Homo sapiens: one gene and its partners. The protein of the gene in region 2 purifies or fractionates together with the protein of the main gene of each other region. This does not show direct contact. Each region holds a gene or a part of one and is shown on either strand. Other genes may lie near its edges. The genes, in order: POTEI, HADHB, GPC4, MTCH2, RTN4, FGF2 and MTNAP1.

The links.
Region 1: the proteins of HADHB (region 2) and POTEI purify together in Homo sapiens (affinity purification with mass spectrometry; 2 studies listed by BioGRID and IntAct, with this or other methods). This does not show direct contact.
Region 3: the proteins of HADHB (region 2) and GPC4 purify together in Homo sapiens (co-immunoprecipitation; one large-scale study listed by IntAct). This does not show direct contact.
Region 4: the proteins of HADHB (region 2) and MTCH2 fractionate together in Homo sapiens (co-fractionation; one large-scale study listed by BioGRID). This does not show direct contact.
Region 5: the proteins of HADHB (region 2) and RTN4 fractionate together in Homo sapiens (co-fractionation; one large-scale study listed by BioGRID). This does not show direct contact.
Region 6: the proteins of HADHB (region 2) and FGF2 purify together in Homo sapiens (co-immunoprecipitation; one large-scale study listed by IntAct). This does not show direct contact.
Region 7: the proteins of HADHB (region 2) and MTNAP1 purify together in Homo sapiens (co-immunoprecipitation; 3 studies listed by BioGRID and IntAct, with this or other methods). This does not show direct contact.

The regions. Positions count from the first base shown.
Region 1 is NC_000002.12:130,502,829-130,506,328, forward strand, and holds part of POTEI (POTE ankyrin domain family member I), read right to left. Parts: intron 1,067-3,500; coding exon 952-1,066; coding exon of another isoform or gene 922-951; intron 792-921; coding exon 618-791; intron 1-617.
Region 2 is NC_000002.12:26,268,939-26,272,438, reverse strand, and holds part of HADHB (trifunctional enzyme subunit beta, mitochondrial isoform 1 precursor), read right to left. Parts: intron 2,487-3,500; coding exon 2,442-2,486; intron 1-2,441. UniProt on the Homo sapiens protein: Mitochondrial trifunctional enzyme catalyzes the last three of the four reactions of the mitochondrial beta-oxidation pathway.
Region 3 is NC_000023.11:133,405,490-133,408,989, reverse strand, and holds part of GPC4 (glypican-4 precursor), read left to right. Parts: intron 1-3,500. UniProt on the Homo sapiens protein: Cell surface proteoglycan that bears heparan sulfate. May be involved in the development of kidney tubules and of the central nervous system.
Region 4 is NC_000011.10:47,625,560-47,629,059, forward strand, and holds part of MTCH2 (mitochondrial carrier homolog 2), read right to left. Parts: intron 3,488-3,500; coding exon 3,394-3,487; intron 1,569-3,393; coding exon 1,521-1,568; intron 183-1,520; coding exon 115-182; intron 1-114. UniProt on the Homo sapiens protein: Protein insertase that mediates insertion of transmembrane proteins into the mitochondrial outer membrane. Catalyzes insertion of proteins with alpha-helical transmembrane regions, such as signal-anchored, tail-anchored and multi-pass membrane proteins.
Region 5 is NC_000002.12:55,022,952-55,026,451, reverse strand, and holds part of RTN4 (reticulon-4), read left to right. Parts: coding exon 1-1,366; intron 1,367-3,500. UniProt on the Homo sapiens protein: Required to induce the formation and stabilization of endoplasmic reticulum (ER) tubules. They regulate membrane morphogenesis in the ER by promoting tubular ER production.
Region 6 is NC_000004.12:122,875,331-122,878,830, reverse strand, and holds part of FGF2 (fibroblast growth factor 2 isoform 18 kDa), read right to left. Parts: intron 2,511-3,500; coding exon 2,407-2,510; intron 1-2,406. UniProt on the Homo sapiens protein: Acts as a ligand for FGFR1, FGFR2, FGFR3 and FGFR4. Also acts as an integrin ligand which is required for FGF2 signaling. Binds to integrin ITGAV:ITGB3.
Region 7 is NC_000017.11:73,245,933-73,249,432, reverse strand, and holds the end of MTNAP1 (mitochondrial nucleoid-associated protein 1), read right to left. Parts: intron 2,193-3,500; coding exon 2,092-2,192; 3' UTR 940-2,091; coding exon of another isoform or gene 897-939; 3' UTR 474-896; downstream 1-473. UniProt on the Homo sapiens protein: Critical regulator of mitochondrial DNA (mtDNA) abundance. Binds dsDNA throughout the mitochondrial genome without sequence specificity and controls mtDNA copy number by promoting its replication.

The DNA of each region.
Region 1 (3,500 bases), about 100 Mb from region 2:
ATACAAAGGGAACAAATCAATCAACAACGACAACACACACACACACACAACCTCTTCATGGTCTTTTCCCTCTATTACCTAATTTCCAAATTGGCCTTGATATTTCTGATTGCTCTCTTTTCCGCTTTCCACTTCTGCCTCATGAGCAATCAGAAATATCTTAAGCCTTGCCACTGACAGGCGCATCACCTTCGTATCTATTACTGTTTCTTAGGAACTTGCCAAAGGGGCAGGATCTCTATTCATTGAAACATATTTAAGTTTTCTTGGAGTTTTCATGTAAAACCTATTTCAGGGCAAATTTTGCCATTTTACATTCATTAGGGGAAAAAAATCCTAGGAGGGAAAAATTGAAAAATAGTAAGTATTACCTTCTACAAATTCAGTGCTTTCAAAAAAATTATTTACCACAAGCGCATTAAAAAAAAAACTGTACCCTCTAATGCTTCTTTGAAAGTAACAATATTTAAAATGAAGTCTTAGATAATTAGGTCATTTCAAAATATTTTCATTCAGGTTATGCTTGAGCTTCCAAATATGGAAGACTGGCCCTTACACAGGTCAATGTTAAAATGAATGCATTTCAGTATTTGAAGATAAAATTGGTAGATCTATACCTTGTTTTTTGATTCGATATCAGCACCGTATAAGAGCAGTGCTTTGGCCATTAATTTATCTTCATTGTAGATAGCGTAGTGTAGAGTGGTATTTCCATACTCATCTGGAATGTTTGGATCAGTGCCATGTTCCAGCAACATTAACGCACATTCATCTTCCTGGCATTGTACGGCCTGTCAGTATTAGACCAAAAACAAATTACAAATCCTAGGAATTCAAAATAACATTCCACAGCTTTCACCACCTAAGTTATATTTAAAGGAGAAAACTCATTTTTATGCTATGTATTGAAATCAAACCCACCTCATGCTGATATAGTTGGCTACTGCATACCTTTGTCAGAGCTGTCCTCTTTTTGTTGTCAAGGACATTAAGTTGACATCGTCTGTCCAGCAGGAGTTTTACTACTCCTGAATTCCCATTGGCAGAGGCCAGATGTAGAGCAGTCCTATGAGAGTGACAAGACTTTTTAGGAAATTGTAGTGCACTAGCTACAGCCATAGCAATGATTCATGTAATTGCAAACACTGAATAGCCTGCTATTACTCTGCCTTCAAAACAAACATTTAACTTTCCCATGAAAAAAGCACACTATTTATTATCTCTCTTTACTCGCTGTATTAATGAAAGAGCATCCTATATGAATACAAAGAGCATAGCCCTTGGATGACATTCAACTTGAGCTGGAATCCTACTTGAAGCTCTGTCACTTCCTGGCTGTTGCTTAGCCTTTTGGGGTCTCAGTTTCCTCATCAATAAAATAGGAATGAAAATAGTAGCTTTCTTACGGGAAACCACTGTAATGCTTAAATGAGACTCTGCACAAAAGATATAGAATAGTTCCTAACACAAATAACAGCTCAATAATTGTTAGATATTTTAATTTTTACTAATACCACTAAAGACAACATTTGAATTGAGATGATACAATTATACCTGCACTTTCAGGTGTGTTTTAAATATTACAGCTAACATTGTATTTTAGTGATTCTGAGATGATCATTGTCTCCATGTTGTCTCCACTGAAATACCACTTACAATTCATGATTTACTATAATTTGCGGCATTTAAATAATTCTCTTATTGAGGCATAAAATAATGGGGCATCATACAATCCCTGGTGTCTTACATTAAGTAGAATATGTTACAACAGGTCTGGGGCGGTTCCAGTCAGATGACCAGCATTTAGATAAATTTTAGTTCCTAAAAGAACTATGGAATAAGAGAGCAGAGGTGAAAACAAAAACAAATTTCTAAAATAAACCAATTCTTACTTTGGTTTTCAATAAACTTTAAGTCAAAGAAAACTTGGAATTCAAATGAATAGCATGGGCTCATTTTTGTCAACACTTAGATTTATACAATGTATGTACATCAGATATTTCCAATCATTCATATTAGGATTTAAGACTGTTATAAATTTTCTTGTTTTAAAATGGATTTATGAAACTATTTGTGGAGCTTTTTTCAACTTTTACATTCAGGGATACATGTGCTGGATGTGCAGGTTTGTTACATAGGTAAATGTGCACCAAGGGTGTTGGTTGTACAGATTATTTCATTACCCAGGTGTTAAGCCCAGTACCTGTTCATTCTATTTCCTGCTTCTTTCCCTCTTCCCACCCTCCACCCTCTGATAGGCCCCAGTGTGTGTTCCTTCCCTCTAGGTATCTGTGTGTTCTCATCATTTAGCTCCCACCTGTAATTGAGAACGTGCTGTATTTGGTTTTCTCTTCCTATGTTAGTTTGCTAAGGATAATGGCTTTCAACACCATCCATGTCCCTGCAAAGGACATGCTCTCGTTCCTTCTTTTATGGCTGCATATTATTCCATGCTGTTTATGTACCACATTTTAGTTCTTAAAACAACTAAAACAGTCTTTTCCCCAAGACATAAATTTTCAAAAGGGCAGTTAAAGGTTATCTATTACTATTTTCTACCTCCAGAAATGCTTTTGTTTGAAAGGAGGGAGGAAAAGCTTCAATTGAGATTAAGTCCTAATGCCCCAATTTTAAATCTCTCAGCTTGCTCAAGCCCAGCAGGAAAACATGTAGTTTTCAAAGACGGAAGGATCCTGAGAGATAGTAGAATATGCCTGCCACATAATAGGTGTCTGGCTTATGTCTGATGACTAAATGGATAGGAAAAATGGATGAACACAGCTTGGGAGTTCAATATTTTTAAAGAAAACTCCTATAGAGTAGCGCAATACATTTGCAATAGCAATAATCATTTATATTTGCTATTTTAATTTTCATAAATATATAACTCAACTAAAATGATTAATTCATACTTTTTACATGTTAATCTATATATAATGAAAAGATAATTATGGAATAAAATGTATATATAATAAAATCTACAGGAACAGGTAAACACGACCCCTCTTCTTCTGAAGAGGGTAAAAGTTCACAGAAAATAGCCAACCACAGAAATAAAAATAAATAATAGAATGTGAGGAATTATTTGCATCTATGCAAGAAGCATATTCCTTCTCTTCCCAAGGATTATTGCATTAGTAATGAACCTTAACTACAACTTCAGATGTTCATTGCAGAAATCACAGATAAGAGAAAGGGAAAAACTTCACTTACAAATCCCCAGAAACAAGTTTGATTATATTTTCTACAGATTTGCAGCTAACACGAGCAGATTCTGTTCGTGTATATGTGTAACAAACTGATTTTTTTCTCACTTGATATAGCAAAGTACATCTTTGCACGTCGACATATCTCTGTATCTACTGACACCCTCAATAGTTACATATTATTCCATCCTATGGATGCACTGAAATTTGTTCATAAAATCTTTATATGGGTTCTTCTAAATACACTGCTATTTTAAGCAATACTAAGAAAAACACATCTATTTCGTAAAGATA
Region 2 (3,500 bases):
GGGAGGCGGAGGCTGCAGTGAGCCGAGATCGTGCCACTGCACTCCAATTTGCGCAACAAGAGCGAAACTCTGTGTCAAAAAAAAAAAAAAAAGACAAATGGGACCATATCAAAAACAGGAACACGGGGTATATACATTTGTCAAAACTCATCAAACTATACACTTAAAATCTGTGCACTTTATTGCATGCAAATTATATATCAACAACCAGCATTATACTAAAAAACAAAAGGCACACAGGAGCCAACTTGAAGGAGTGCCAGATAAAATGTGGAATAAGCTGAGCTTCAAAATGAGTAATGACTAAACTTGGCTACAATGAAATAAATAAATAAAAATCTGTAAAATCTGTAGTTTTTTATCAATTAAAAAAACTAAAAAGAGGGTTAGAAACATTGGCTTACGCCTATAGTCCCAGTTACCTGGGAGGCTTCGAGGTTGCAGTGAGCTATGATCAAGCAACTGCACTCCAGCCTTGGACAGAGTGAGACTCCATACAGAAAAAAATAAATTAAAAATTTAAAAAAAATTTTTTTTTTGAGACAAAGTCTTGCTCGATTGCCCTGCCTGGAGTCTAGTAGTGGAATCATAGCTCACTGCAACCTTCAACTCCTGAGCTGAATTCTCTTGGTTGGCTAATTTTTAAAATTTTTTTTTGTAGAGATGGAGTCTTACTATGTTGCTTAGGCTGGTCTCAAACTCCTGGGCTCAAAAGATCCTCCTACCTTGATCCTCCTGCCTTGGTTTCCTAAAGTGCTGGGATTATAGGTGTAAGACACCATGCCTAGCTAGTAGATGAGATTTTTAAAGGAAAATATGCATACAGAGAAATGCAAAGCTCTAAGGAATGAAACTTGCAAAACACCTTTCAAAAAGAGAAAGAGGGAGAGATCCAGTTGTGTGTGTGTGTGGTTTTTTATTTTTATTTTTTGAGACGGAGTTTTGCTCTTGTTGCCCAGGCTGGAGTGCAATGGCGTGATCTCGGCTCACTGCAACCTCTGCCTCCCAGGTTCAAGGGATTCTCCTGCCTCAGCCTTCCAAGTAGCTGGCATTACAGGCATGTGCTACTACGCCCAGCTAATTTTGTATTTTTAGTAGAGATGGGGTTTCTCCATGTTGGTCAGGCTGGTCTTGAACTCCCGACCTCAGGTGATCTGCCCACCTCAGCCTCCCAAAGTGCTGGGATTACAGGAGTGAGCCACCGTGCTTGGCCCAGTTTTTTTTTTTTAAGCTAGAGAAGAATCGGCCGGGCGCAGTGGCTCACACCTGTAAGCCCAGCACTTTGGGAGGCCGAGGAGGGCGGATCACGAGGTCAGGAGATCGACACCATCCTGGCTAACACAGTGAAACCCCGTCTCTACTAAAAATACAAAAAAAAAAAAGAAAAAAAAAATTAGCCGGGCATGGTGGCAGGCGCCTGTAGTCCCAGGTACTCGGGAGGCTGAGGCAGGAGAATGGCGTGAACCCGGCAGGCAGAGCTTGCAGTGAGCCGAAATCACGCCACTGCACTCCAGCCTGGGTGACAGAGCGAGACTCCGTCTCAAAAAAAAAAAAAAAAAAGCTACAGAAGAATCAGTCAGGATACAGAAGAAAAAGAAAAATCATAAAGGCATATTACTAAGAAGTCAACAGAAGAGAGGTGATTATAGCTTACAGTGTCAAGTGCTATAAAGTACAGAGACAGAGGACTGAGAAAGGATCAGTACATTGAGCAATCATAAAACCATTATTAAGAGAAGATTCTAAAGTATGGTTTCTGTAAAACAAAGGGAAAATGGAAATAATGATTATACAATTAGACAGAGGAAACTAATAATAAGGAAACAGAAACAACTGCTCTTTCACTCATGCTTGAGGTATTGCAGGAAGAAAAAAAAAACAAACATAGAGTTAGAATGGACAGAAAGGTCAACTGAAGGGTTTCTCCAAACTAAGAAAGAACTGTGGCTGGTTGAAGACACAAAGGCAAAGTGTCAGTGGAAAATGAAGAGATAATGCCTTACATGTTATGAAACAGCAACACATTTAATGATTCTCAACCAAATTATTCATCCAGCCTAATCTTATTTAACTACATCTAATTTTACATTTTTACTTGGTTTGCACATGAATCTTCAGGTGTCTTTTAGGCTTCTTTCTAGGTAAATATCTACATAATCTGTTCAGCTACCCTTATACAAGTTCCTAAGGCAATCATCAAATATATGTATTGTGTTTAGGCTGATCAATCGAGTCCTGTGGCTAGCTAAGGTAGCATTAAAGTATACTGTCAGGCTAAGACACTGTTAGGCCTGCAAAATAAAGATTGACAATATTCATAAGCTGCTTAAATTTGTATAGTACAGATGGCTAAAATAAGAACAAATTGCTATTTTATGTGTAAAAACTGGAGAAAGTGCCTTTAATGAAATAAGAACGGAAATGAAACTGCATTTACTTACGTAAGCGCTGCTCTAGCCAAATCATGTGGCATCAGGTCTTTATATCTGGGGAACGAAAACCAGTAATTTAAACCAAAACCCTAGAGCTTCAATGAAAAATTTTCATTCTATTTGAAATACCCAGAGATCATCAAACACATGCTGCTACAAACACACTTAACTTTACTATCCAAGGCAGTCCATCATTTCAAATGAAGAAATAGTGTGACTTCGCTATTTGTCATCCTTAAAAGTCTAGCAAGCCTTAACTCCTCCTGAGCTTGCTAAGAATCGAACAAAAATGTTGTCCAACACCTTAATGTTCAGTATAACATATGCTAAATTTTCTTTAAAGTGAAGCCCCACCTTTGAGGTCTCTTTTCCTTTAAACATTTTATTTTAAAAGTATATTATTTATTTATTTTGTAATGCCTACAGGGCTACAGGTGATGTATTAGGACTTTTGAAGAAACTTTTTGCTTTTAAGTAACTTGAGATTTACCAAAGAATTGGAAAGAGGCCAAGCATGGTGGCTCACACCTAGAATCCCAACATTTTGGGAGGCTGAGGTGATATGACTACTTGAGGCCAGGAGTTCAAGACCAGCCTGGGTAACAGAGCAAGCAAGACCTTGTCTCTTACAAAAAATATTAAAAATTAGCCAGGCGTGGTGGCATGGATCTGTAGTCCTAGCTACTTGGGAGGCTGAGGTGAGAAGACTGCTTAAGGCCATGAATTTGAGGCTGCTAGGATCACACCACTGCACTCCAGTCTGGGCAGCAGAGCAAGACCCTGTGTAAATACATAAATAAGAATTGGAAAAAGAGAGCAGAGTTCCTCTTTCCCCCTGCTGTTTTTTTTTTTTTTTTAAGACGGAGGTTCGCTCTTGTTGCCCAGGCTGAAGTGCAATGGCGCAATCTCAGCTCACTGCAACCTCCACCTCCAGGGTTCAAGCAATTCTCCTGCCTCAGCTTCCCGAATAGCTGGGATTACGGGCACCCACCACCACGCCCAGCTGATTTTTTTGTATTTTTAGTAGAGATGGGATTTCACCATGTTGGCCACGCTGGTCCTGAACTC
Region 3 (3,500 bases), on a different chromosome or scaffold from region 2:
AGAGACGTGGTTTCACCATGTTGGCCAGGCTGGTCTAGAACTCCTGACCTCAAATGATCCAGCCTCCCAAAGTGCTGGAATTACAGGCATGAACCACCATTCCAGGCCTGTATCTAAACACTTTGAAGTGAAATAAATTTAAAGTAAATATGCATATGTTGGTATAGCTTGGAGAACGTTTTTATTCTTTTGGGGGAGTACTTGTCTTTACCACTTCATTAATAACTGAATGCTTATAGGATTTTTTTTTATTTTTTGAAACAGAGTTTCGCTCTTGTTGCCCAGGCTGGAGTGCAATGGCACGATCTCAGCTCTCCGCAACCTCCGCCTCTGGTTCAAGCCATTCTCCTGCCTCAGCCTCCAGAGTAGCTGGGATTACAGGCATGCACCACCATGCCCGGCTAATTTTGTATTTTTAGTAGAGATGGAGTTTTTCCATGTTAGTCAGGCTGGTCTTGAACTCCTGACCTCAGGTGATCCACCTCGGCCTCCCAAAGTGCTGGGATTACAGGCATGAGCTACTGCACTGGCCAGGAATTTTTCAGAAAGATTCAGAATTGTTTTTCTTAATGCCTTGAGATACACTTCTTTAAAGAATGAACAGTTGAGACTGTTGTGATTAGGCAATTTAGAGCAAATTTACCACATGCAACTGTTCAGTGTGCATCAGTTACCTTTTAACATAAAAAAACTCAAGTTTATTGTCTTTACCAAGAAGAACACAAGCTTTGAAGGGTATCAGAATATTTTATATAAATAAACAGACATACTAAAATACAAACAGGTAAAAACTAGCATTTTCAAATCTACTTGGTTAAACATCTGTTGCTTACTATAGAGAACATGAAAGTGCAGAAAATGCATGAAGCGATTCCATCCTGGAGGTAATTTGAAATATTATGTTTAAGTTCTGATGCATTTAATTCAGCAATCTGGTGGGAGAGAAAAATCAAAGAGCTGCATCAGCCAGGTATTCAACTTTTGAGAAAGAAACTCTAACAAATGTTAGAAATTAGGGGAAAAAACTGAATGGGAGAGTTAAAAAAGTCAATAACCTCCAGGAAGCCTGGAAACTATGTAAAAACATCTTATTGGAAGCCCAGATAAATGTGTGCCAGACATCAAAAAGACCAACTGCTCGGGGGAAGAAAAAAAGAACCCGGCATGACTAACTGGCAGAGTAAAAGAGGCTGCTTCAGGGAAAAAGGCATCTTTCACAAAATACAAAGAGTTTAAGCCAGAAGAGGGAAGTCCACTAGGTTTCACAAGGCCCAGGTACAAACTAGAAATTAAGTGGGCTGACAGAGAATTGAAGTTGAATCTTGCAAGGGATTTGAAAGATGGCATGTGTGATAATAATGGTGAAAAGGGTGGGTTGAGTCCAACCTATCTAGGGAGAAGCAATATGGCTTCTTTAAGGGTAAACCATGCCTGATTGATCTCTCGGGATTCTTTGTGTGGAAAAAAAAGCATGAGGATACAGGGAAGCAGACATACATCATTTAGGTTTTTAAAAATTATGCAATGGGATTCTAAGGCAAAGAATATTCAGAAAATATATTTACTTTGAGATAGGTGGGGATAGTTGGACAGAGAGGGAGAGTGAGGGAGGGAAGAGACTCCACTGTTGTAGATGGAGTAGTTTACATGGAGAAGACATGGCTTGTTAGGATGAGTAGTTCTAGCCTAACTCTGGCAAATTTGTTGTCAAATACCTTTGGTGAGGTTCTTCCCTCTTTGAAAAATGGGGTGAAATTGAACCACCTGGCACCTGAGGAGCTTTTAAAATATACTAATGCCTGGGTACCACCCCATACCAATGAAATAATACTTTTTTCAGGAAGGACTAGGCCATGATGGATGGATGGATGGATGGATGAATGTGTGTGTGTGTGTGTGTATTTTTTTTTTTTGAGATGGAGTCTTGCTCTTGTCACCCAGGCTGGCGTGCAATGGCGTGATCTCAACTTACTACAGCCTCCACTTCCTGGGTTCAAGCGATCCTTCTGCCTCAGCTTCCCGAGTAGCTGGGACTACAGGTGTGTGCTGCCACACCCGGCTGGTTTTTTGTATGTTTAGTAGAGATGGGGATTCACCATGTTGGCCAGGCTGGTCTTGAACTCCTGGCCTCAAGTGATCCACCCACCTTGGCCTCCCAAAGTATTGGTATTACAGGCGTGAGCCACTGTGCCTGGCCCATGGTAGTTTTTTTTAATTTTCTTTTTTTTTTTTTTTTTTTTTTGAGACGAAGTCTTGCTCTGTTGCCAAGGCTGGGTGCAATGGCATGATCTCCACTCACTGCAACCTCCGCCTCCTGGGTTCAAGTGATTCTCCTGCTTCAGCCTCCTGAGTAGCTGGAATTACAGGAGCACACCACCACTCCTGGCTAATTTTTTATATTTTTAGTAGAGACAGGGTTTCACCATGTTGGCCAGGCTGGTCTCGAACTCCTGACCTCGTGATCCGCCCGCCTCGGCCTCCCAAAGTGCTGGGATTACAGGCGTGAGCCAGCATGCCTGGCCTAGGTCCCTTCCATCTCTGAGATTCTATTATTCTAAATTTTCCAATGAGATTCATCACAAAATGTTGTTTGAGATAAAGCCTTTAGTTTAGAATCAGTGCATGGTTGTTTTAATTTTGGCTAACTTGGATTTAAGAGAAAGGTGTGTCAAACATGGAGGAAAATGTTTTCAATCAAGATATAAGTGTGAACCACAACTGAGTGCTGCTTTGCTGCAGGTAGAGACATAAGACAAGCACAATGAGAATACTTTGGAAAGAATTAGAACAGAATCCAGCCTTGCTGTCATTTATTGATTAAGTGTCAACATGCTAGGTGATATTTCTTCCCTTTTTCTTTATTGGTAAAATTAAAATAAATCTCTTTATCCCTTACTTTAATGTCCTCTTTGCCATGTGTTTATTCTCTTCAAGTATCTTATCAAGAAATAGAAGTACAGTAAATCCCTAGGCTTCTAGCTGGTGCAACCATCCAGAACACAGCTGGGAATGTGGAAGTAAGCAGAAAAGCCAAATGATGGAAACAGCTGTCATAAAGCCCATGCATTCTATGTGGAGAAAAGGCCTTCAGAAATTTATTATCAGCAATCATTGAATGGCTCCTGTATCCAGAGCAGTATGCTGGGTGCAGGGGATTCCAAGAGGTGTCAAGCAGGAATCAAGCTTTTGAGGAACTTGCATTCAAATTAGGTAGATAGGGTTTATACGTGAGAAGATAAAATGCTTTGGTTATCCAGTTTCCCAGTCTATGGCAGATTAGAAGTAGCAAATGGTATTGGTTGGGGGCCGATGGGAATCACAGGAAGGGATCGTGTTAGAGGCAGGTAAGACTTGACATCTGGAAGAAGTGAGAGAGGACAGTTGGAGGGTGACCAGAAGCTGAATGGGAGAGCCAGAACTTGCTGATCTTGGCAGTTTGAGATCTCCTAGAATGGGCGAATGCTCAAAGCCACCTTTGTAACCATAATCATCGAGGGCAC
Region 4 (3,500 bases), on a different chromosome or scaffold from region 2:
ATACCAATCAGAGATTGATACTGATCATTCATCTTTCCTAAATTTCTACAAGGCTGCTCCGCCTGTCAGCATACAGTCAACCACCTACTAGAATAAGAAATACAAAGTGCTTACCCACAGTTGTTGACAGCCATAAGATTGGAGACAAGCACAAAGGGATAGGTCAACATACTCGCAAAAAACTGTAAAATGGAAACAAGGCAGCTGTTATTAGATCATTCCTAGTCTTTATTCTCCTTTCCTTTACCTTAAAGGCCTAGTGCCACTGCGGTGAGACACTCTAACACTTGTCTCGCTTCATCGGTACCCTGGAAAGACAACAGTTACAGTTTTGAGCCTGGAGATGCTTCTTCCTCTTAGCACACCACTGCATCCAACATTTTAACAAAAGGCCAGAAGAATTCTCTGATCCTGAGTAGCTGGGACTATAGGCGCACGCCACCATACCCAACTACTTTTTTTTTTTTTGAGATGGAGTTTCCCTCTTGTTGCCCACGCTGGAGTGTAATGGTGTGATATTGGCTCACTGCAACCTCCGCCTCCTGGGTTCAAGCGATTCTCCTGCAACCTCCGCCTCCTGGGGTTCAAGCGATTCTCCTGCCTCAGCCTCCCAAGTAGCTGGGATTACGGGCATGCACCACCATGCCCAGCTAATTTTGTAGTTTTAGTAGAGATGAGATTTCTCCAAATTGGCCAAGGTGGTGTCGAACTCCCGACCTCAGCCTCCCAAAGTGCTGGGATTACAGGAGTGAGCCACCGCGCCTGCCCCAGCTTTTTTTTTTTTTTTTCACTTTTGTAGAAATGGGGTCTTGCTCAGTTGCCCAGGCTGGTCTTGAACTCTTGGCCTCAAGTGATCCTCCTTCCTTGGCCTCCCGAAGTGCTGGGTTTACAGGTGTGAGCCACCATGTCTGGCCTGAACAATATTATTTCGGAGGAAAGGCACGCCCCTTATGAAAGCTAAGCAGTACCAAACCATGCAGGATGTGAGGCAGGGGTTCTGCCTTACTCTCTTTATTTTCACATGTGAGTCTGTGGTTCCTTCGAAAACTGAGTTATTCTCTCTTTTTTTTTGAGATGGAGTCTCACTCTGTCGCCCAGGCCGAAGTGCAGTGGCGTGATCTCAGCTCACTGCAGCCTCCATCTCCCAGGTTCCAGTGATTCTCCTGCCTCAGCCTCCCGAGTAGCTGGGATTACAGGCATGCACCACCACGCTCGGCTAATGTTAGTATTTTTAGTAGAGACGGGGATTCATCATGTTGGCCAGGCTGGTCTCGAACTCCTGACCTCAGGTGATCCGCCCACCTCACCTTCCCAAAGTGCTAGGATTACAGGCATGAGCCATGGCGCCTGGCCGAAAACTGAGTTATTCTTACCTTTGACAAATATAACAAATTTCAGGGAGATGTCCCAGTGAGACATCTGGTTATCTTAAAGCAGTGATGACACAAGCCAGATTTAAAAGGAAAACAAAACAAAACACAACTATTCCTAGAAGGTTAAAAGGATTTTAAAAAACTCACTCCTGTGACAGCTTGAGAATAACTCTTCATTTCATTCATGGTAGAAACCTAAAATAGGAAAAGAGCCTTAAATTAATTACCTACAACACTACAACACATCAATATATTCTTTTTTCCTTTTCTTTTCTTTTCTTTTTTTCTTTCAGACAGTGCCTCACTCTGTCACCCAGGCTGAAGTGCAGTGACCTCCTGAAGCACACATCACCACGCCCAGCTAATTTCAAAATATTTTTTAAGAAATGGTGTCTTTTTTTTTTTGAGATAAGGGTCTCCCTATGTTTGCCCAGGCTGGTCTCAAACTCCTGGGCTCAAGAGATCCTCCCACCTTGACCTCTCAAAGTGCTGAGATTATAGGCATAAGCCACTATGCCCAGCTAAGAGACGGTGTCTTGCTATGTTGCCTAGGCTGGTTTCAAACTCCTGGCTTCAGGCAAACCTCCCACCTAAGCCTCCTGAGTCGCTGGAATCATAGGCTGGAGCTACTGTGCCTTGCTCTCCATGTCAATATAGTCTATCTCTAAATTATCAGTTTGACAGCTTGAAAATTAATTTTTTTTTTTTTTTTGAGACAGGATCTCATCTCTCTTGTTGCCCAGGCTGGAGGTGCAGTGAGCTGTGATCTCACAACCTTGACCTCCTGGGCTCAAGTGACCCTCCCACTTCAGCCTCCCAAAGTGTTGGGATTACAGCATGAGCCACCACACCTGTCTAAAACTAATTTTGAGGACAAAACCATAAAACACTGATTATTAGAATAATAAGGCAGTGGTCAAAATGATCAACCTGATTCAATATTAACAGACAAATTCATATTATACTAAAATGCTTTAGGGACGAATGTAAAAGGATTTCAAATACTAAAGAAAATGAGATTGATAACCTTTTCACACATCCTAGAAATACAGTCCCTGGAAAACCACATTTATAGTATATCTAAGGGACAATTCACTACCTTTGTTTTACACAGCTAGCTTTCTACCAGATGCGTTGAAGAAAATCCCTCTCTGTACTCAAGAGGTTTACAACATGGATTTAGTCATATACCCTGTGATGTGTTCAATTTATCATCATGCTATGGAGCTGCCGACATACAAGAGGCCCCACAACTGCTGAGATAAGAAAGACAACTTCTAGATAAGACTGATTCTCAAAAGGCTGAGGTTTCTAGAAAGCCCAATACAGGCACCCTCTTAAGTCCAGATTAGATGAAAAGCCCCCGATACACCATAAAGATGTCCTGCTTTCCCAGGTTCTCTCAAGTTAAGTATCAGTAAAGAAGTGATCTCTTTAAAGCCCTGAAGTAACACAGGGCTAAGTCTCTTGGGTATACTCTGTCACATCTTACGGACTTTTAACGTGTATCGTTCTACAGTAAACAGTATCGTTCTACAGTGAACAGTATGCTCATTTCATTAGCATTTGAAAATTTGACTGATAATTTTTAGCTATATAATTGTTCAGTCTGGCATGTAGCAAACTGTCATCTTGTTTATTTATTTATTATTTATTTTTTGAAATGGAGTCTCCTTCTGTCACCCAGGCTGGAATGCAGTGGCGCGATCTTGGCTCACTGCAACCTCCGCCTCCTGGGTTCAAGCAATTCCCCTGCCTCAGCCTCCCAAGTAGCTGGGACTATAGGCACGCACCACCACGCCCAGCTAATTTTTTCTGTATTTTTAGTAGAGACGAGGTTTCACCATGTTGGCCAGGCTGGTCTCGAACTCTTGATCTCAGGTGATCCGCCCACATTGGCCTCCCAAAGTGCTGGGATTACAGGTGTGAGCCACCTCGCCCGGCCCATCTTACTTTAAAAGCTAATCTAGCTGCCAGATTAAAGCCAAGGTGAGCACATCTCACGAAGGTCACAACCTACCCCACTGTCCAGTGCATAGGTATTGACGAGGTAGGCCAGTGAGTTACACAGCCACAAAGAAAGGATGTCACCTAGAAGGCGAGGAACAAGACCCCTACATGAAGAAA
Region 5 (3,500 bases), about 29 Mb from region 2:
CTGACTCCAGATTTAGTACAGGAAGCATGTGAAAGTGAATTGAATGAAGTTACTGGTACAAAGATTGCTTATGAAACAAAAATGGACTTGGTTCAAACATCAGAAGTTATGCAAGAGTCACTCTATCCTGCAGCACAGCTTTGCCCATCATTTGAAGAGTCAGAAGCTACTCCTTCACCAGTTTTGCCTGACATTGTTATGGAAGCACCATTGAATTCTGCAGTTCCTAGTGCTGGTGCTTCCGTGATACAGCCCAGCTCATCACCATTAGAAGCTTCTTCAGTTAATTATGAAAGCATAAAACATGAGCCTGAAAACCCCCCACCATATGAAGAGGCCATGAGTGTATCACTAAAAAAAGTATCAGGAATAAAGGAAGAAATTAAAGAGCCTGAAAATATTAATGCAGCTCTTCAAGAAACAGAAGCTCCTTATATATCTATTGCATGTGATTTAATTAAAGAAACAAAGCTTTCTGCTGAACCAGCTCCGGATTTCTCTGATTATTCAGAAATGGCAAAAGTTGAACAGCCAGTGCCTGATCATTCTGAGCTAGTTGAAGATTCCTCACCTGATTCTGAACCAGTTGACTTATTTAGTGATGATTCAATACCTGACGTTCCACAAAAACAAGATGAAACTGTGATGCTTGTGAAAGAAAGTCTCACTGAGACTTCATTTGAGTCAATGATAGAATATGAAAATAAGGAAAAACTCAGTGCTTTGCCACCTGAGGGAGGAAAGCCATATTTGGAATCTTTTAAGCTCAGTTTAGATAACACAAAAGATACCCTGTTACCTGATGAAGTTTCAACATTGAGCAAAAAGGAGAAAATTCCTTTGCAGATGGAGGAGCTCAGTACTGCAGTTTATTCAAATGATGACTTATTTATTTCTAAGGAAGCACAGATAAGAGAAACTGAAACGTTTTCAGATTCATCTCCAATTGAAATTATAGATGAGTTCCCTACATTGATCAGTTCTAAAACTGATTCATTTTCTAAATTAGCCAGGGAATATACTGACCTAGAAGTATCCCACAAAAGTGAAATTGCTAATGCCCCGGATGGAGCTGGGTCATTGCCTTGCACAGAATTGCCCCATGACCTTTCTTTGAAGAACATACAACCCAAAGTTGAAGAGAAAATCAGTTTCTCAGATGACTTTTCTAAAAATGGGTCTGCTACATCAAAGGTGCTCTTATTGCCTCCAGATGTTTCTGCTTTGGCCACTCAAGCAGAGATAGAGAGCATAGTTAAACCCAAAGTTCTTGTGAAAGAAGCTGAGAAAAAACTTCCTTCCGATACAGAAAAAGAGGACAGATCACCATCTGCTATATTTTCAGCAGAGCTGAGTAAAACTTCAGGTAATCCAATCTATATGCAGTTTTGTGCTTTCATGCCACTTTTGGATTTAGGGAACATTCCACTACATTTTGTGTTTTATATTATGTTTATAGTGTCTCATATGTCACATTGGTAAGAAGTCTTCTCCACTTTTTCAGTTAAAGGTTTTAGTGCTTTTTCTAACTCTCTTGCACTCAGCATTCACCCTTAACTTTTCCACACAGTTACACTTTTATATTGCACTATGGAACTATTAATAGAAAATATTTTTGTTTATAAGAATTGGCTTTAGTACCTATTTCTTTCTTTCTTTCTTTTTTCACTTGTGTTTCTTGATAACATGAAGAGCAAGAGATATTAAAATATTTTCAGATGTGTTTTTGTTATCCCAGAAATTACCATATTTAATTTTTAAAGAAAATTTCTATAGTATGTTTTAAATATTTCTATATAATATAGTACTTTTCCAGTGGTAGGTATAAAGTTAGGCATATTGAGTGTAGACATTTTGTTGAAAAGTATAAAATGAGTTATGCTATTATGAATTCTTTTGAAAAGTACCGATTCTCCTTTTTTTCTTTTGACTATCCATTTTCCACATACCTGATTTGCATAAGGTGATTTGCACAAGGTGATTTGCACATGTGCTCTTTATTAGCATTCTGATTTAGCTGCGTTTTCTCTAAAATAGTGATTATGATAAATTTACTGAATATACTTATGTATTTAAGTGCTGGTGCTTCAGCAGTACAGTCCAGCTCATCACCATTGGAACAGTGGTAGACCAGTTGCTGTAATCTAAGAAAGAGGAGATTATGAACATTCAGGCAGTGGGATGAGCACAGAGACATAGGACTTGGTGTTTGACGGATAGGGACATAAAGGATGAGGGGAAGAGGTAAAGATGACCCCAGGAACCCTGGATTTCATTTCTGGCATGTGCACTTGTATGGGTGGCAGTATGAGAAACTGAGATAGGGAACATGAGAGATTAAAGTAGGTTTAAGAGGGAAGATACAAATTTGGTTTTGGATATGTTGGTATTGATGTACATACCTCTAAGATATCCAGTAAGTTATGGATATTATACACATGAAGCTCTTGAGAGAGATCTTGGCTGTATGTGTCTGTCATGGGCTTAGAGATAGAAATTAAAGCCCCAGATACCAATTAGGAAGAATCAAGAGAAGAGGACTACTTGAAGGTGGAAGAAATGGTCAAAATTATCAAATACTGGAGAGGTCAGTTAAGGATTGCAAGTTGGTCAAAAAGGAGGGAAGATATTGTCATGACAGCGGCAAATGGTGTGGTGTGCATGGGCATGGCTAGGATTGAGAAGTGAATGAGACTTGAGTAAGTGGTTATTAAATGTTGATTACTCTTAAGAAGTTTGAGATTTTTATTGGAGAAAAATTAAAATATTAGCAAGCAGGAAGGAGAGTATGCAGTGGAGGTAGGACTTTTTTTTTAAGGTGGGAAGGGGAAAATCTGATTACAGGTGCTGGCAGAAAGTCAGAAGGGGATGGGGATGTGCTGCCTAGTTCAGGTGGAAGAATTAGTGTTAGAGAGAAGGAACGATAGAGCTTTGATTGTAGTGAGTGGAAAGGAAAGTATGGGGTATTGATACTGTTAGGGTTTTGTGACTGAAAGTTGAGGGAATTATTTGATGGTTTATGTTTGTTCTTTAAAGCAGTATGTTAGTTCATTTGCTGGGAATGAAGTAGATCATGCTTGGGTGGAAGAGATCTGCAATACCTCTGACTAGGGAAACCAAAGGCATTGTATTAGGAGCCTAATCAAGGTTGAAAGGTGGTCTAAATGGTAGGGTGACTTTTCTTTGATTGTGCCAAACAACCTAGGTATGGGTTCAGGGAAGGCAAATGATTGTATTGATTCAAGGATGTGTTTTGGCAGGTGGGCCCTGTGGAAGGACAGTAAGTCAAGAAAGTTGAGGGTGATAGCAGGAGAGTAATTTGAAGTGATGGACTGTGGCATCTAAGTTGAAGGATGTGAATAGAAAAAGGTAGGAGAGGTAGGAGGAGAGTAGATGGTCAGTGAACTCAAGGCCCAGATTAGGTTTAAGAACCAATAGTAGTAGGAATAAATACATGCCAGAATGATAGGAGATTGTGGTCAAAGTAGGGGAGAGAAAGA
Region 6 (3,500 bases), on a different chromosome or scaffold from region 2:
TTTGACTTTTCTTTCATCTTCAGTCCTAAATCTAATCAATCACAAGTGCTAGCACTTTCCTCACTCCTCTCTGACCTACTGTTATTGCCAGGATCAGAACATGACTTGCTTGGACTATTACAGTGGCCTTCTAACTGATCTCTCTCCACCAGTCTTGGCCCCCTCAAGTCCATTCTCTACACTTCTGCCAGGATGATCTTTCTCAAATTTAAATCTAATTAGATCTCTTCTTAAAACTCTTCATGGCTCTCCACTGCTTATAGTCAGCATGGTGTATAAAGCCCTTCAACAGATTCAGCAGACAGTCTATCTACCTCCCCAGCCTTCTCTCCCTTCCCTTCCACCTAGTTACTCCATTGCACTATACATTCCAGCATTAGTTAATTACTTGTAATTCTAGAGATACATCAAGTAGATTTTTTATCCACACCTTTTCATGTCCTATGTCCTAGAGTTATCTATACCTTCATCTCAATTTCTTCTGCCCCATGACTGCCTGCTGAACTCCTTCCTTTACAACGTCTAAAATTCTACTTATAGGTCATCTCCCCCAATTCTAGAAAAATGTAATTACCTCATTTTCTATATTGCTTCCTATATCATAATACTTCTTATCCTTTCCTATATTACTATGCATGTATGCAAAATATAGAAGTAGCATATCAAAACCCTTATACATTATTATAAATACTTATTTACACTTCTGCCTCCCCTGGATTGTCACTCATTAAGGGCAGAGACAATTTGATATTCAATTTTATAAGCTCAATGCCTACCATAGCATCTGGCACACTTTCACTTAATAAGTATTGGCTATTCTTAAAGAGAATTCTAAAATTTATTCAACTACCTCCCCCCAAAATTGAGAGCCACTACACTCAAACTTGTGATTTATCCTGCAAAAATTACATAAACTGGTAATATCAATGTAAGTATATCTTTGTCATACAGTCAGTCTGAAATTGGGATAGTTTAGATACCCTTTTTCTCTGTAAGCCTTGTTTTGGTGCTTTTAGAAATCCAAAGGTCTTCATTCAGAAGAAATTTCAAAAACTATTTGTATAGCTCAAAATACCACAATTTCTTAGTACTGTTAGATCCTTTCTGTGGGGAGGTTATATAGAGATGTCATAACTGGCCAGTGGCATTGGTGTAAGAGCTGTGAAACACACACACGCACAAACATTTACATACATGTCCTATCTACTCCCTCACGGAGACAGGAATGAGATCTGTCTTTTATATTTATTTTCCTGCACCATTCTTTATACATCATATGTTCAACAGATATGCAGTCCCGTTTCTAATAATAATGGTGAAGTTGACAGGGAGCCTGTACTAGTGGAAAGAATACTAGCCAGGAACTAGGACCCCTGATAAGCTGTGATAACATGTAAAAAAGAAAAGTTCCTCTCTACAGCCAGGCACGGTGGCTCACGCCTATAATCCCAGCACTTTGGGAGGCCAAGGCAGGCGGATCACCTGAGGTCAGAAGTTCAGGACCAGCCCAGCCAACATGGCGAAACCCTGTCTCTACTAAAAAATACAAAAAAATTAACCAGGCATGGTGGTGCATTCCTGTAATCCCAGCTACTCGGGAGGCTGAGGCAGGAGAATTGCTTGAACCCAGAAGGCAGAGGGTACAGTGACCCGAGATTACGCCACTGCACTCCAGTCTGCGCAGTGGAGTGAGACTCCATCTCAAAAAAAAAAAGAAAAAAAAAAGTCCCTCTCCTGACATATATGTAAATGAGAAGTAATGTGAGGAAGAAGTAACAATTTTCAGGATCTATTACGTGTCAGATGCTGATTTGGGCACTTGATGTGTAGTATCTAATTAAATTCTGATAAAATCCCAATGAGATAGTATCATTGTTTCTATTTTACAGGTAAGAGAACTAACTCAGAATCATTTGCCCAAGAACACAGAGCTCATAAGTGGCAGAGTCGGCATCTGTACCAGGCAGAAAGCTTACATTCTCAACTAGTGTTCTACATTGCTAGTGTTTTGTACGTCACATTCTAAAGAAGAAACTTAAAAACTAATAATCAAAATTGTATACATTTATTCCCAATGATCTTCAAACAACTGCATAATAGAAGAAAATTTTTTTTAAATTATAGCTTAATAGTTTTGCAGAGTAAAAGCAGTGACTTAGAGGTCAGGAATGCCTCCAGCCCAATCCAGTCTCTACTTTATATGAGCTGTGTTTTCTTACTTTACTTACTCCCTCAGCACATCAGTTTTTGCATCTGTGAAATAAAGAAAATACTCCCTATTTTACAGGGTGACTATGACGATGATACACGTAAAATCCTTTATAAAGATTTGATAAACAACAATGCTGGTAAATTAACAGCAATAAAAGCTAACAAAAAACGTGTGAAAACAGAAAGTATGCTTACAGAAGCCAGTAATCTTCCATCTTCCTTCATAGCCAGGTAACGGTTAGCACACACTCCTTTGATAGACACAACTCCTCTCTCTTCTGCTTGAAGTTGTAGCTTGACTGTAACGGGAAAAAAAATTATCTTTGTAGCACCACAGAGGAAAGAGCCTTCTTCACAATATTTACGCAATATAAAGACAAAACACACCTAAGCAACAACTAATCCACTTTGGAGGATTGGTGAGGTTGGGGGTATGGGTGAGTGACAGGGAGCAGATGTCAACTAAACTGTATGAGAGAGGATGAGATGCAGAACTACTAGGGCACCAGTGCCTTGTGAGTTCCTTGTCGCTCCTGTGTCACAGGGTGAGCAGAGAAGGTGTCACAGGGTGAGCAGAGAAGGGGGACACACGGAGAATTGTTTCCTTTGTTGGGCAGTTAGCTTTCAATCGCCCCTGTTAACTATTTACATTTTTTAAAGTGAACATATTTTAAGGGTACATAAAAGTGTAGGAGAATTCCCATGCTACTGCCTATGTTGAAACTATTTAAAAGTTATTTGCCAATTCTTCACAAATGAAACAAAATCTAGTTATTCACTGTTATAATTTGAGCTGTATTTCCTTGACTTTTTGAGACGGAGTCTCTCTCTGTCACCCAGGCTGGAGTGCAGTGGCACAATCACGGCTCACTGCAACCTCTGCCTCCCAGGTTCACACCATTCTCCTGCCTCAGTCTCCCAAGTAGCTGGGACTACAGATGCCCACCACCACGCCCAGCTAATTTTTTGTATTTTTAGTAGAGACGCGGTTTCACCATGTTAGCCAGATGGTCTCGATCTCCTGACCTCGTGACCCACCTGCCTTGGCCTCCCAAAGTGCTGGGATTACAGGCATGAGCCACCGCGCCCGGCCCTATTTCTTTGACTTCTACACATCTTATTTCTAGCTTCCTCTTCAATGAACTATAGATGCATTTAGCTTTCTATATGGGATTTTGATGTCTATTTTTTTGTGTGCAAATATCTATCTAGTGGAAACACAAAATGCTTATACTTAATTTGCTTACACAGCAAATGATTTTCATAAAATAAGTGTGATGAAAGATTTT
Region 7 (3,500 bases), on a different chromosome or scaffold from region 2:
GCACAGAGCTACGTAGGCAAATCACTCTACCTCAAGCCCGTTTTCTTTTTGGAAAATGAGCAGGATAGCACCTACGCCACAGGACTGTTTGAAACTAAAAGGAGAAAACACATGTAAAAAACCTTGCATGGCACTCGGCACAAAGCAAGCCCCAGATGTTGGCTGGATCTGCCTGTGGATTGCAGTAGGGCCTCTCTTCCTCCGTTCAAGGTTGGAATTTATATATAGTATGATGGCACATACTACAGGCTTTAGAACAGCTGCTGTCAATGAGTTCCTACCATCACAGACGTTGCTGGAATTAACACATGTAAGACTTCTAATCTCACCAAATGTCTGCAAAGTAGGAATAATTATCCCTAAATTACAGTACAAAGGAGGCTCCAGTAAACTGGGTAACTTACCCAGGGACACACCCACCCATTTCACAGGTGAGGCTCTAGAAGAGGCATATAATCAGCTCAGGGGAGTACTTTTTATATTTTACAAATAATTTTATTATGAAGAGTGGCGGAAGTAGTATGTAGATGCCCCATAAAGTATAAAAGAGTCTGCTGATAATAAAATGATTTTATTTTTAACAGCTAAAATAAATTTTAATGTGCATTAGAAAAACTACACATTCCCAAGTAAACTCAGTCTTTCAGATATTATTCAGGATTAAACAAGGCCGCCCCGAGGTTAATCCACTTACACAGACCACGTGTGAGTTACAGCCGGGGTATTCAGGCATGTCCGTGAATATTCCCAACTTGTAGTAACAGAACCTTCAAATACGTCCTCTCAAGCATGGACAGTAGCCTGGGTGTCACCATGCCTCTTCTGCGGGATGGATGGGAAGGTGAATATGGATTACGTGTATGGATTCTCACGCTGCATTTGTATGCACCTTGCAGGAAGATTCGGGAATTCAAGCTGCTGCCTGGAAGCAAGATCTAAGCGTTGCTTCTTACCTAGCGGGGCACTCCAATGCCACAGACAGGGCAGAACACGACTTTTACCCCCTCCTTCTGCAGCATGATTTTAAGAGACAAAACTTATAAGGCTGTTTAAAATGGTAAATCATGTTAGAGACGTTCTTTTTCTTTCCTTGGCTCTGTGAAGAGATGAGTAGTTACCCCGCCTCACACCTGAAGCGTACTGGCTTCTGTGGGTAGCAGTCTTACTTGTCTACTATTCGTTCTGAGGAGTCTTGTCTTTCTGGATGAAGCTTTTAATCTGGTGATCACATACATGATTGGAACTGGCTGTGCAAATGAACTGATAGGAATTTTGCATACATGAGCGAAAAATGTATCCTCACGAGGCAACTTTACATCAGTATTGCACCCTGGAGCTGTGAAGTGTGCTTCCTCGTCATGCTGAGTTTGTTTAGATCTAAATCTCAGAAAATAATCAGCTATCAGTTTACCTCAACAACGCTCTTAAACTATTCTGAACATTAAGAAGAGATTCTTGAAGGACTTGAGAAAACATCTTCAATTATTTTCCCAACCCAGGTGGCAGCAATGAGCAGACAAGGAAGCCTTTCCTTCCATTACTCTGTAGACATTTACAAGTCATCCCAGAATGTGGAGATGTTTCCAATGGCTTCTTGAAAGTTATCCACACTACTGTATTGTGGATTCTCAGTATCTAATTCAAAGAAGTCAGTGGAGACTTTTTGTTGTTTCCTACTATATGTGAGTTAGAATTCTTGGTACTTACCAATGTCAAACAAAAAAGCTGTCTTCTTATTAATACAGGATCTCACCTTTGCCTTAAACTTGGCAATACAAGGCAGATATCCTTTTAGGACTCATGGATCATTAAATAGTTCTATTCTCATTAAATAACTTATTTTCAGGGATATAAAATATTTACTGTGACTAAGTTAAACCTTTTCATTATGTTTCAGCACCCTGATTATGACAAGTGATACTACTTTATTTATAGCAGTGATACAAATGCTCCTGATAACCTTGAGGGCTGAAAAGCTATCCCTTAATGCTACCACTACACTTAGGTGTTACAGGGCAATTCAGTGGGCAACACAGGGCACGAAGGCACTAGAGAGAAGTCACGAAGGCTTCTCCTACTTAAACGTGCTTCCTAATCCAAACATGTTTTAGAGCGGCAATCCCCAGTCGTCTTCGCCACACCAATGCATGGAGGTACTGTGCTCTTCCAGGGCAGGGGTCGGCACAATTTTTCTGTAAAGGCCAGATAGTAAATATTTTCAGCTTTTCAGGGCATATGGTTTCTGTCGCAACTACTCGACTTTGCTGTTGTTGTGTGAAACAGCCATGGATGCCACCTAACCAAATGAGCAGGGCTTGTTTTTGTACATTTTGACTACATACAAAAACAAGGCAGTGGGCTGGCTTTGGTCCGTGGGTCACAGTGGGGTCTGCTGCCCCTGCTCGAGGGAACTGGGGGACCGGGAAAGAGGGTATTACTGAAGGTCATTCTCATCTACCTTCTCACCTTGAGAGTTTCTGGTCTTGAGTAAGGACACATGGGGAGGTGTGGAGAGAATCCTTAAGCATCTCTCCTAAAGAGCATTCACAGAGAATGGGCACAAAGCTCTTTCGGCAGGGAAGATTGTTCTGGGTTCCAATGAAGTTCTTAGTAATATTAAACTAAAATAACTGAATGTAGAACTCTTCCCCTCAACCACAACTTTTTTCCTTACAGAGAATTCTAGGATACAGGGATATATTGCTGAATACCTTAACTATGAGAATTTGTTGCAGAATTAAATTACTCCCACTAGGGATGGAAAGGAGCAGGGGATTGGGAATAGAAAAGGTAGGTAAAAAGTAGCCCCAGCATTCCAGCTTTGAGAAGAGAGAGAAACGACATACAAGTCAACACATGCTGGCTGTGGCTTTCCTGTAGGTTTTTTGGGATTTTTGAGACAAGGTTTCACTTCCATCACCCAGGCTGGAATGCAATGGCACAATCTCAGCTCACTGCAGCCTCCGCCTCCTGGGCTCAAGTGATTCTCCTGCCTCAACCTCCTGAGTAGCTGGGACTACAGGCGTGTGCCACTGAGCTCAGCTACTTTTTACAATTTTTTTTTTGTAGAGATGGATTTCACCACATTGCACAGGCTGATCCTGAACTCCTGACTTCATGATCCGCCCGCCTTGGCCTACCAAAGTGCTGGGATTACAGGCGTGAGCCACCGCACCCAGCATTCCTGTAGTTTTAAAAGAGCTGGGACATAAGAGGAACTGACCTCATGTATTTTGGCATGAGGACACCACAAGCAAAGCTGAGACAGACGGGTGTGTGCGTGTGATATATAACTAACCCTCTACGTTAGAAAGGAGGTTGGGGAAACACTTATCCATCAACGTTGCCTAAATTTCCTCAAAGCTTTTTCTACCTGTAAGTATCCAAGTTACTCTCTGTGGGCCAAAGCAGAAGTCAAAAAATCAGACACTGAATAGTTTGATGAGATGAAGAGACACAGAAAACCCACCAGCCAAAAACAACCCTAACAAATGGAGAGG